3 separate regions of the Homo sapiens genome follow, and all the other regions are linked to region 1. The links come from fine-mapping of genetic effects on gene expression. A gene starts in region 1. Each other region holds a variant in brackets. All regions are shown on one strand. Distances are between the middles of the regions.

Region 1 (2,843 bases):
GGAAGTGGTCCAGTATAAATTAAGCATTAGTGTTGTAAAGCCTTTCTCAATCCCCCACTGTGAGAAGGAAGTCTATTCGATTTTTTTTTCTCATCAAGTAGGAAGACTTCCCAGTACTCATTCTACCCAACCTGTCTCACCCTCCAGCACTAGCTTGGCTACCTTTACACAGCTGCTGCTCGGGATACACTAAGCACAATTATTCCTGAATATTTGTGTCTTGTGTCCTCAGATCAGAGAATTCTATTACAGGTAACAAGTATGGTCCAGATAACCAGGCAGTCCAAAGGGAGACTGAGGCTTGGCTGACGCTGAAAAACGGTTACAGAAGGACAAGTGCTGGCACAGAGCCTTGGCCACCCATCTCTGCCCCCAAGTGCAATTCATTTTCTTTGAAAGAGGAAAACAGGCAAGGGAGAAAATATATAGAATTGAAAATACATTATGCAAATGTGGCTAGCAAGGATTAAATTGTTAATTTTAGAGAAATAGGAGAAAGATGCCCAAGTTGTGCTGAAGCAAGGAACCAGGACTTTCTTAATAATTAGTTTTGTCAGTCCAGTAGTGTGCAAAGGTTGAGCTGCTTGTCCCCAGGGACAGAAATCCCATAATTTTGAAAGTCTTTTGACCAAGAGCTGGCTCAAAGCAGAATATGTGCAATGCGTTTCTTAACTATTGAAAATCTTGTCACCACGGGATATAGACATGCTAGTCAGACTTCCGTACCATGACAGAAGGTCAAATCTGAAGCAGTAAAAGAGATCACATAAATATTGCCATCTCATTTCCAAGCTAGTCCCCTTAACTATTAAAACACGGTGACCAGATCGCTGCTTCGGGCCTCCTGAACTCCCGCCTCTCCCACCCGGAAAGTACTGACCCAGAGAGGACACACCTTTGCTTCTGCGCAGCCCAACTTCTGCAAGCGCTCAAGAGTTAATTACTCCTTCACCTTCCTGGGGCCTAACAGCGTTACTGGGTCCTGATTATTTATACAGACGAAAAACGATGTTCAAGAGATTTTGACAACTTAAAAAAAAAAAAAAGAATGCGGTGGAAGTCTAAGATTGCCTCCCCTATGACAAAACACAGCCCCGCCGGCCGCCCGGGCCCGACTCCGCCCGCCCGCCCGCCGCAGTTTCGGGGCTGCGGCCCGGGGGACGCGGGCGCGGCAGGGCTGGGGTCTCCTCCGGGAGTCGCGGGGCGCACGGGCCGGGAGGGGCACGCGGGCGGCACCTCGCACCCGAGCGGCTCCCGGGCCCGGCGCCCGCTCACCTGGTGCGTGTTGTTGGCCAGCTTGGCGACGAAGTCCCGGACCCGGCCGCACTCCTCGTCCTCGCCCGGCGCGCTGCGACGCCAACGGCCGCCGCGGGGAAACGCGCCCCCGGCTGCGGCCGCCCGCAGCCCCCAGCTCACCCCGATGGGGCCAGACCAGCGCGGCAGCGGCGCAGCGGGCGGCGGCGGCGCGTCCAGCCGGTCCTGGCTGAGGGTCGACGGCGGCAGCAGCTGCAGGAGGAGGAGGAGGCCGAGGCCATGGGGCCAGCGCGAGAGGCCGTCCGCAGCTCCCCAGGGCCGCTCCATCGCCGCCGAATGCCGCCGACGCCGACACCTGCCGCCCGGCGCGCCCGCCCACCCCCGCCGGCGCGCGCCACACCCCCGAGCCGAGCGCGGCGCTCCTTGGATACGCGCGGCCGGGCCTCTCCGCCCCATAGGCTGGCCGCCTGTCCCTCTTCCCCGGCCCACTCCTCATTGGCTCGCGTCGCCTCCGGCTTCGGGGGTCCTGGATTCGGATGCTAAGATGCGGGACTGATTGGCTGGAACGGGGCAGAGACTGCTGAGGTCAACCCCGCCTCGCCCGGCGTCTCCCGGGCCCGGCTTGTGGAGTTCACGTAGGAGCTTCTCATACCTTCCCGCCGAGCCCCGGGCTCCTGGCGTCGCGACCCCTTGCCGCACCTCTAGCGCCCTCAAGTTGGGGCTGGGTTACGTCCCTCCTGTTCCCCAGAGACACTCCTAAAATTCCTTCGGTGAGGCAGAGCCTGGAAAAACCTACCCAGGAAATCCCTGAGCTTGCTCAGCTGGAAAAGGGGGCTCCATCATGAACCGGGGCTTCGGGTTTTTATAAACCCCGCTCACTGGAGCGCCCATTGTCTGCTAAGCAGCTGCCTTGCTGCAAGAAGGTGAATGCGAACTGATGTGGGCCACATCCTACGGAGACAGACATCAGGACATCCGTGACTCCTGCAAGCCTGAAGAATAGTCTTTCCATACGTTTGGCCTCTCTCACCTTCCTCTTCTGAGGGGAGGTAGGCCAAAGGCGGAATTACTTACAGGTTTTCCAGGACTTCGAATGTAGCTTAGGCATTAGGGGCAGGTAAAAGAGGGGCAAGAGAATGATCCAATGCCTACTGTACACATGATCATTTCCTAGATGCACATTTATTTTACCAAAGTGCCTTAACTCTGCAGTGAGAGCTTCGGACAAGTTTGGTTCCAGTATGTGATGTCCTCTAAATTAGCACCCCGATCCACCTCTAATGAATAAAATAAAACCCCTACGCTGTTCCCTTTACCGCAGAAGCTGCACACACAACTTCTACAACACGTAGCACAGGTAAAACCAGTTCTGAATCCTTAAGCTTACTGACTCCATCCCTTCAGAAAGCTAGAAATTGTTCAGTAGAAAAGGTAGCAAATAGAAAGATACAAAATATGCAAGTCATTACACTCAAAGCAAGTAAAGATTACTTTTAATTATAAACTGGCCATAAACCCAAATGAGGATATAGTCATTGTAGAGCAAAATGATACAATGCACCCAACCCGATATTTACATTAAAATATTT
Region 2 (2,500 bases), 120 kb before region 1:
CCACCCCTCCTAGGCTCTACGCGGCGCAGCCCAGCCTAGGGCAGAGTGCGGGAGGATGGGGAGCTGGGGGTGCTTTCCTGTTTCCTTCGTCTGGTGAAAGCTTTCACTCTCTCCTCTGTTTCAACTAACCCTCTGTCTGCCTTTTCTGCCACTTTCCTTTCCTGCCTCTCCAGATTTCTCTTCTTTAACTTCCTGCATTAACCCTGGGCCGTGGTTCCTACGCCCGAGGCTCCCTTCCCTTCCCCAGCCGCACTCATGCCCTGCTCCTGTCTTGTGCTTTATCCTGCCCCGCTCCCCATCGCCTGCCCGCAGCAGCGACGAAACGTCCATCTGAGGAGCCTGGGCCTTGCCGGGAGGGGTACTCACCCCACCTAAGGCCATCTAGTGCCAACTCCCCCCCCACCATTCCCCTCACTGCACTTTGGACCCCTGGGGCCAACATCTCCAAGACAAAGTTTTTCAGAAAAGAGGAAAAAAAGAATTTAAAAAAGGATCTCCACTCTTCATGACTTCAGGGATTCATTTTTTTTATACGCTGGAAATTGACTCCCCTTTCCCTTCCCAAAGAGGATAGGACCTCCCAGGATGCTTCCCAGCCTCTCCTCAGTTTCCCATCTGCTGTGCCTCTGGGAGGAGAGGGACTCCTGGGGGGCCTGCCCCTCATACGCCATCACCAAAAGGAAAGGACAAAGCCACACGCAGCCAGGGCTTCACACCCTTCAGGCTGCACCCGGGCAGGCCTCAGAACGGTGAGGGGCCAGGGCAAAGGGTGTGCCTCGTCCTGCCCGCACTGCCTCTCCCAGGAACTGGAAAAGCCCTGTCCGGTGAGGGGGCAGAAGGACTCAGCGCCCCTGGACCCCCAAATGCTGCATGAACACATTTTCAGGGGAGCCTGTGCCCCCAGGCGGGGGTCGGGCAGCCCCAGCCCCTCTCCTTTTCCTGGACTCTGGCCGTGCGCGGCAGCCCAGGTGTTTGCTCAGTTGCTGACCCAAAAGTGCTTCATTTTTCGTGCCCGCCCCGCGCCCCGGGCAGGCCAGTCATGTGTTAAGTTGCGCTTCTTTGCTGTGATGTGGGTGGGGGAGGAAGAGTAAACACAGTGCTGGCTCGGCTGCCCTGAGG[G/T]TGCTCAATCAAGCACAGGTTTCAAGTCTGGGTTCTGGTGTCCACTCACCCACCCCACCCCCCAAAATCAGACAAATGCTACTTTGTCTAACCTGCTGTGGCCTCTGAGACATGTTCTATTTTTAACCCCTTCTTGGAATTGGCTCTCTTCTTCAAAGGACCAGGTCCTGTTCCTCTTTCTCCCCGACTCCACCCCAGCTCCCTGTGAAGAGAGAGTTAATATATTTGTTTTATTTATTTGCTTTTTGTGTTGGGATGGGTTCGTGTCCAGTCCCGGGGGTCTGATATGGCCATCACAGGCTGGGTGTTCCCAGCAGCCCTGGCTTGGGGGCTTGACGCCCTTCCCCTTGCCCCAGGCCATCATCTCCCCACCTCTCCTCCCCTCTCCTCAGTTTTGCCGACTGCTTTTCATCTGAGTCACCATTTACTCCAAGCATGTATTCCAGACTTGTCACTGACTTTCCTTCTGGAGCAGGTGGCTAGAAAAAGAGGCTGTGGGCAGGAAAGAAAGGCTCCTGTTTCTCATTTGTGAGGCCAGCCTCTGGCTTTTCTGCCGTGGATTCTCCCCCGTCTTCTCCCCTCAGCAATTCCTGCAAAGGGTTAAAAATTTAACTGGTTTTTACTACTGATGACTTGATTTAAAAAAAATACAAAGATGCTGGATGCTAACTTGGTACTAACCATCAGATTGTACAGTTTGGTTGTTGCTGTAAATAGGGTAGCGTTTTGTTGTTGTTGTTTTTTCATGCCCCATACTACTGAATAAACTAGTTCTGTGCGGGTACAGCACTGTCACTGTCCGCTTCTGTGTGGTACCCTGTCCTCCCACAGGGAGGAAGGTCTGGTCTCTGGAAAACAGAAGAGCCGGCAGGGCCCAGAAGGCCCCACCGGGAGGTCGGGAGACTCAGACACCACTGGCTGATAAGCCTGTCCCTCTGCCCATGTCCATGACACTGCTCCCAAATAGCTGGATCAGCACAGAGCCCATTTCCTGGCATTTCCAAGGAAGACATGGTGGGCGGGCAGGAAGGTGTCCTTTTCACCAGGACGGAAAGGACTTCTACGGTGGGAGAGGCTGCACGGGGCAGGCAGCCTTCCAGCCCAGCCCCTCAGGGCTGAGTCCTAGACAGGGATGAGTTTTCTGGGGCAGAATTCAAGAAGCAGGGAGGGCTGCATTGAGAGGCTGGTTGGAATTGAATGGTGGTCAGTGACTCAGTGCCTCCTAACTATACTGCTCAGGGTTGTTTTTTGTTTTTTTTTTCCCATTGGAAAATGAAGCAGCTACTCATACTGAAGCCAAGTGTGTGCTTTGCAACATTACTTCTCAGCCTAAGTTTTGTTTTTGTGTATATATATGATATATATTTAAAAGTATATATGC
Region 3 (2,843 bases), 190 kb before region 1:
AACAGCTTTATTGAGATATAATTCACATATTACACAATTCACCTTTAAAACATACGATTCAATGGTTTTCAGCAAACTCACAGAGTTGTCCGCCCACTTGAGAGCAAACACATGTTCAATTTTCTTTTCCTTTTTTTTTTTGAGACAGAGTCAGCTTTGTTGCCCAGGCTGGAGTGCAGTGCCATGATCTTGGCTCACTGCAGCCTCCCCATCCTGGGTTCAAGTGATCCTTCTGCTTCAGCCTCCCCAGTAGCTGGGATTACAAGCATGCGCCACCACGCCTAGCTAATTTTTGTGTTTTTAGTAGAGATGGGGTTTCACCATGTTGGCCAGGCTGGTCTCAAACTCCTGGACTCAAGTGATCCACCCACCTCGGCCTCCCAAAGTGCTGGGATTACAGGTGTAAGCCACCGTGCCTGGCCTACATGTTCAATTTTCTATGAACAAAGGCTTTAGTCCTTGACCCAGGGCTAAAGTGGTCTGTCCAAGCTGTTGTTGGTAGAGGGAGTATGATAAAATGTTTAAATCTCATTTGGTTACCTTGAGTCCTGGAACATGCAGTAACTGTCATGCTATAGACATCATCTGTATTTGGCTGGGAATACAAATGAAGATTGTGGTGTATTCAAGCAGTAGGGTTTTTGCTTTTGTTTTTGTTTTAGTGCCAACAAAACTTTTTTTTGTCTGACTACATTAAAGATAAGACTGACTATATTTATACAACAGAAACTTTGTAATAGATTTTTTCAGCTTTGTGAAATCGAATTTTTTTTCATCAGGGCTGGTTGGATTTCCTTTTTACCCTGTAATCCAAGCGTTAATAGTTTGTTAGAAGATGGGTTATTGCATGTCACTTTTTTTTTTTGTAAAATAAAAACATACCTTACAAGTTGTTTTTCTTAAACATGGGTTGGGTGGCTGGAGGGGTGAGTGGGAAATGTAAGTGTCCTGGAAGCTTAAACTGAAAAGGAGAAGGATTCCACATTCGCAGAGAGGCAGAGAAAAGAGCACAGACTTTGGAACAAGATGGACATAGGCTAGAAGCCTCCCACTACTTGTTGAGGAATCAGTCAATAACCAAAGCCTCAGTTTCCACAATAATAAAATGCATCTAATGATACCCAACACACCAAGATTGAATGAGCTCAAAAGAAATAACTCATAAACCACTTCGCATGCTACTTCCCTTCCCTTCTGCTCAGGTTTCTTTCAGGAAACATGAGGC[C/T]AGCCACATAACAATAAATCCACAAATAGAAGCAAAATTAGCTTCTTTGGGTATGAAGTAGATTATTACAGACTAGATGTGGAGAAAATCCTAGATGATATCAAGGGCCTACCATTTCCTGAGGTTGCTAGATTTTTGCTTTCTTTCTTTTTTTTTTTTTTTTTCTGAGGCTCACTATGTTGCCTAGGTTGGAGTGCAATGGCACAATCTCAGCTCACTGCAGCTCCAACCTCCTGGGCTTGAGTGATCCTCCCACCTCAGCCTCCTGAGTAGCTACAGGCATGCGCCACCACACCTGGCTAATTTTTGTATTTTTTGGAGAGACAGGGTTTCACCATGTTGCTGGTCTCAAACTCCTGGGTTCTAGAGATCTGCCCACCTTGGCCTTCAAAGTGCTGGGATTGCAGGCATGAGCCAGCGTGCCTGGCAGGATTTTTCTGCTTCAGGACTTTATTCTAGTTGAGGGCACTTGATCCCCAAAAATAATTCTCTCAGCTATTAATAGATGAGTTGGGAATGTCACACTTTTCAGACTGAATGGCACTAAGTGCCAGATGTTCTTCGTCAGGGTCCTTAGGTAATTTCTAGTCTTCTAACAGGCCTCTCCGCGCCAGTGCTTCCCACACCAGTATCACCCCCCTGCTCTGTAGCCAGAGCTCTTTTTCTTTTTTTCATGAAAAGTTTTCTGGTAAAAGGCAGAAAACCTGCTAACCAAATTCTAAAAGAGGGTGTGGCGGCTCATGCCTGTAATCCCAGCACTTTGGGAGGGCCAGGCTGGAGGATCGCCTGAGGCCAGGAGGTTGAGGTTGCAGTGAGCTATGATGGTGGATTGCACCACTGCCCTCCAGCCTAGGTGACAGAGGCAGACCCTGTCTGTAAAAAAAATAAAAAAATTCTACAAGAGCTGGAACACTCAGAGCCGTTTTTCTAACACATCTGATGGCACTCAAATGTGCCATCTCTGATGGCTCCTTATTGCTGTCAGGCAGGAGCAATTGGCAGCAGCTCACCTACACTCCAAGGCTGGTTGTTTATGACCCACATCTACTTTGACTGGGTGGTACCTGGGTTGTACTGGTGGTTAAATATTTTGAACATCACCCCTGCTTATAACATACAGTCCAAACTCTAAGAAGGTAAGTAGAAAAGAAAACGCATTCGTTTGGCATCTGTGTCAAGCCTGGACTTAATGCTTTCACAGCATTGCCTTTTTTCATTTTCAGAACAGCCCTGGAGGCAGCTACTATCCCCATTACACCCATTACAATAGAGGAAGAAACTGTGTCTCCAATAGATTCAGTTACGTGGCCTACAGGGTCCCTAACGGCCCACCGGCCCACCTTCCCAACATTGTTTCTACTCTAACCACACTGAGCTTTTGATGGTCTCTGAGTCATAAGCACCTTCATGCCTCCAGCATTGGAATATGCTCTCCTCTCTGCCCCTCTGCTTCCTTTTCACCTCACAGATCCCACTCAGCCTTCCACGTCACCCCACTGTGGGAAATAACAGGGCAAAAACAGTCCCATGGGAGTACCGCTATGAATCTTTATGAATACAACCGTGTACTGTGCAATGCAACAAACAAGCAACAGACACAATCAAGCTTGAAACTGCG

Direction of the effects. Alleles are on the strand shown, and positions count from the first base shown. SD is a standard deviation of normalised expression in the study named. Not every link is listed here.
For the expression in liver of the gene that starts at base 1,607 in region 1, allele G in region 2 goes with a lower level than allele T (large effect, 1.3 SD a copy in GTEx).

The links.
Region 2: its variant is fine-mapped to the expression of SORT1 in liver (GTEx, PIP above 0.99).
Region 3: its variant is fine-mapped to the expression of SORT1 in whole blood (INTERVAL, PIP above 0.99).

The regions. Positions count from the first base shown.
Region 1 is chr1:109,396,312-109,399,154 of GRCh38, forward strand. It overlaps SORT1 (sortilin 1), which reads right to left and starts at 1,607. Exons shown (of 20, transcript NM_002959.7): 1 at 1,276-1,607. The coding sequence starts at 1,581. PSMA5 (proteasome 20S subunit alpha 5) reads right to left here. Exons shown (of 9, transcript NM_002790.4): 9 at 2,731-2,843. RefSeq lists silencers at 1,384-1,483, 1,494-1,563, 1,604-1,733 and an enhancer at 1,760-2,741.
Region 2 is chr1:109,273,849-109,276,348 of GRCh38, forward strand. It overlaps CELSR2 (cadherin EGF LAG seven-pass G-type receptor 2), which reads left to right. Exons shown (of 34, transcript NM_001408.3): 34 at 174-1,903. The coding sequence ends at 201. Among named protein-coding and RNA genes, the nearest start is that of PSRC1, 8.0 kb to the right of the region's middle. RefSeq lists an enhancer at 404-2,435 and cis regulatory regions at 1,116-1,135, 1,120. The variant G/T (reference allele first, on the strand shown) is at 1,120.
Region 3 is chr1:109,205,893-109,208,735 of GRCh38, forward strand. ELAPOR1 (endosome-lysosome associated apoptosis and autophagy regulator 1) reads left to right here. Exons shown (of 22, transcript NM_020775.5): 22 at 1-889. Among named protein-coding and RNA genes, the nearest start is that of SARS1, 6.6 kb to the right of the region's middle. The variant C/T (reference allele first, on the strand shown) is at 1,226.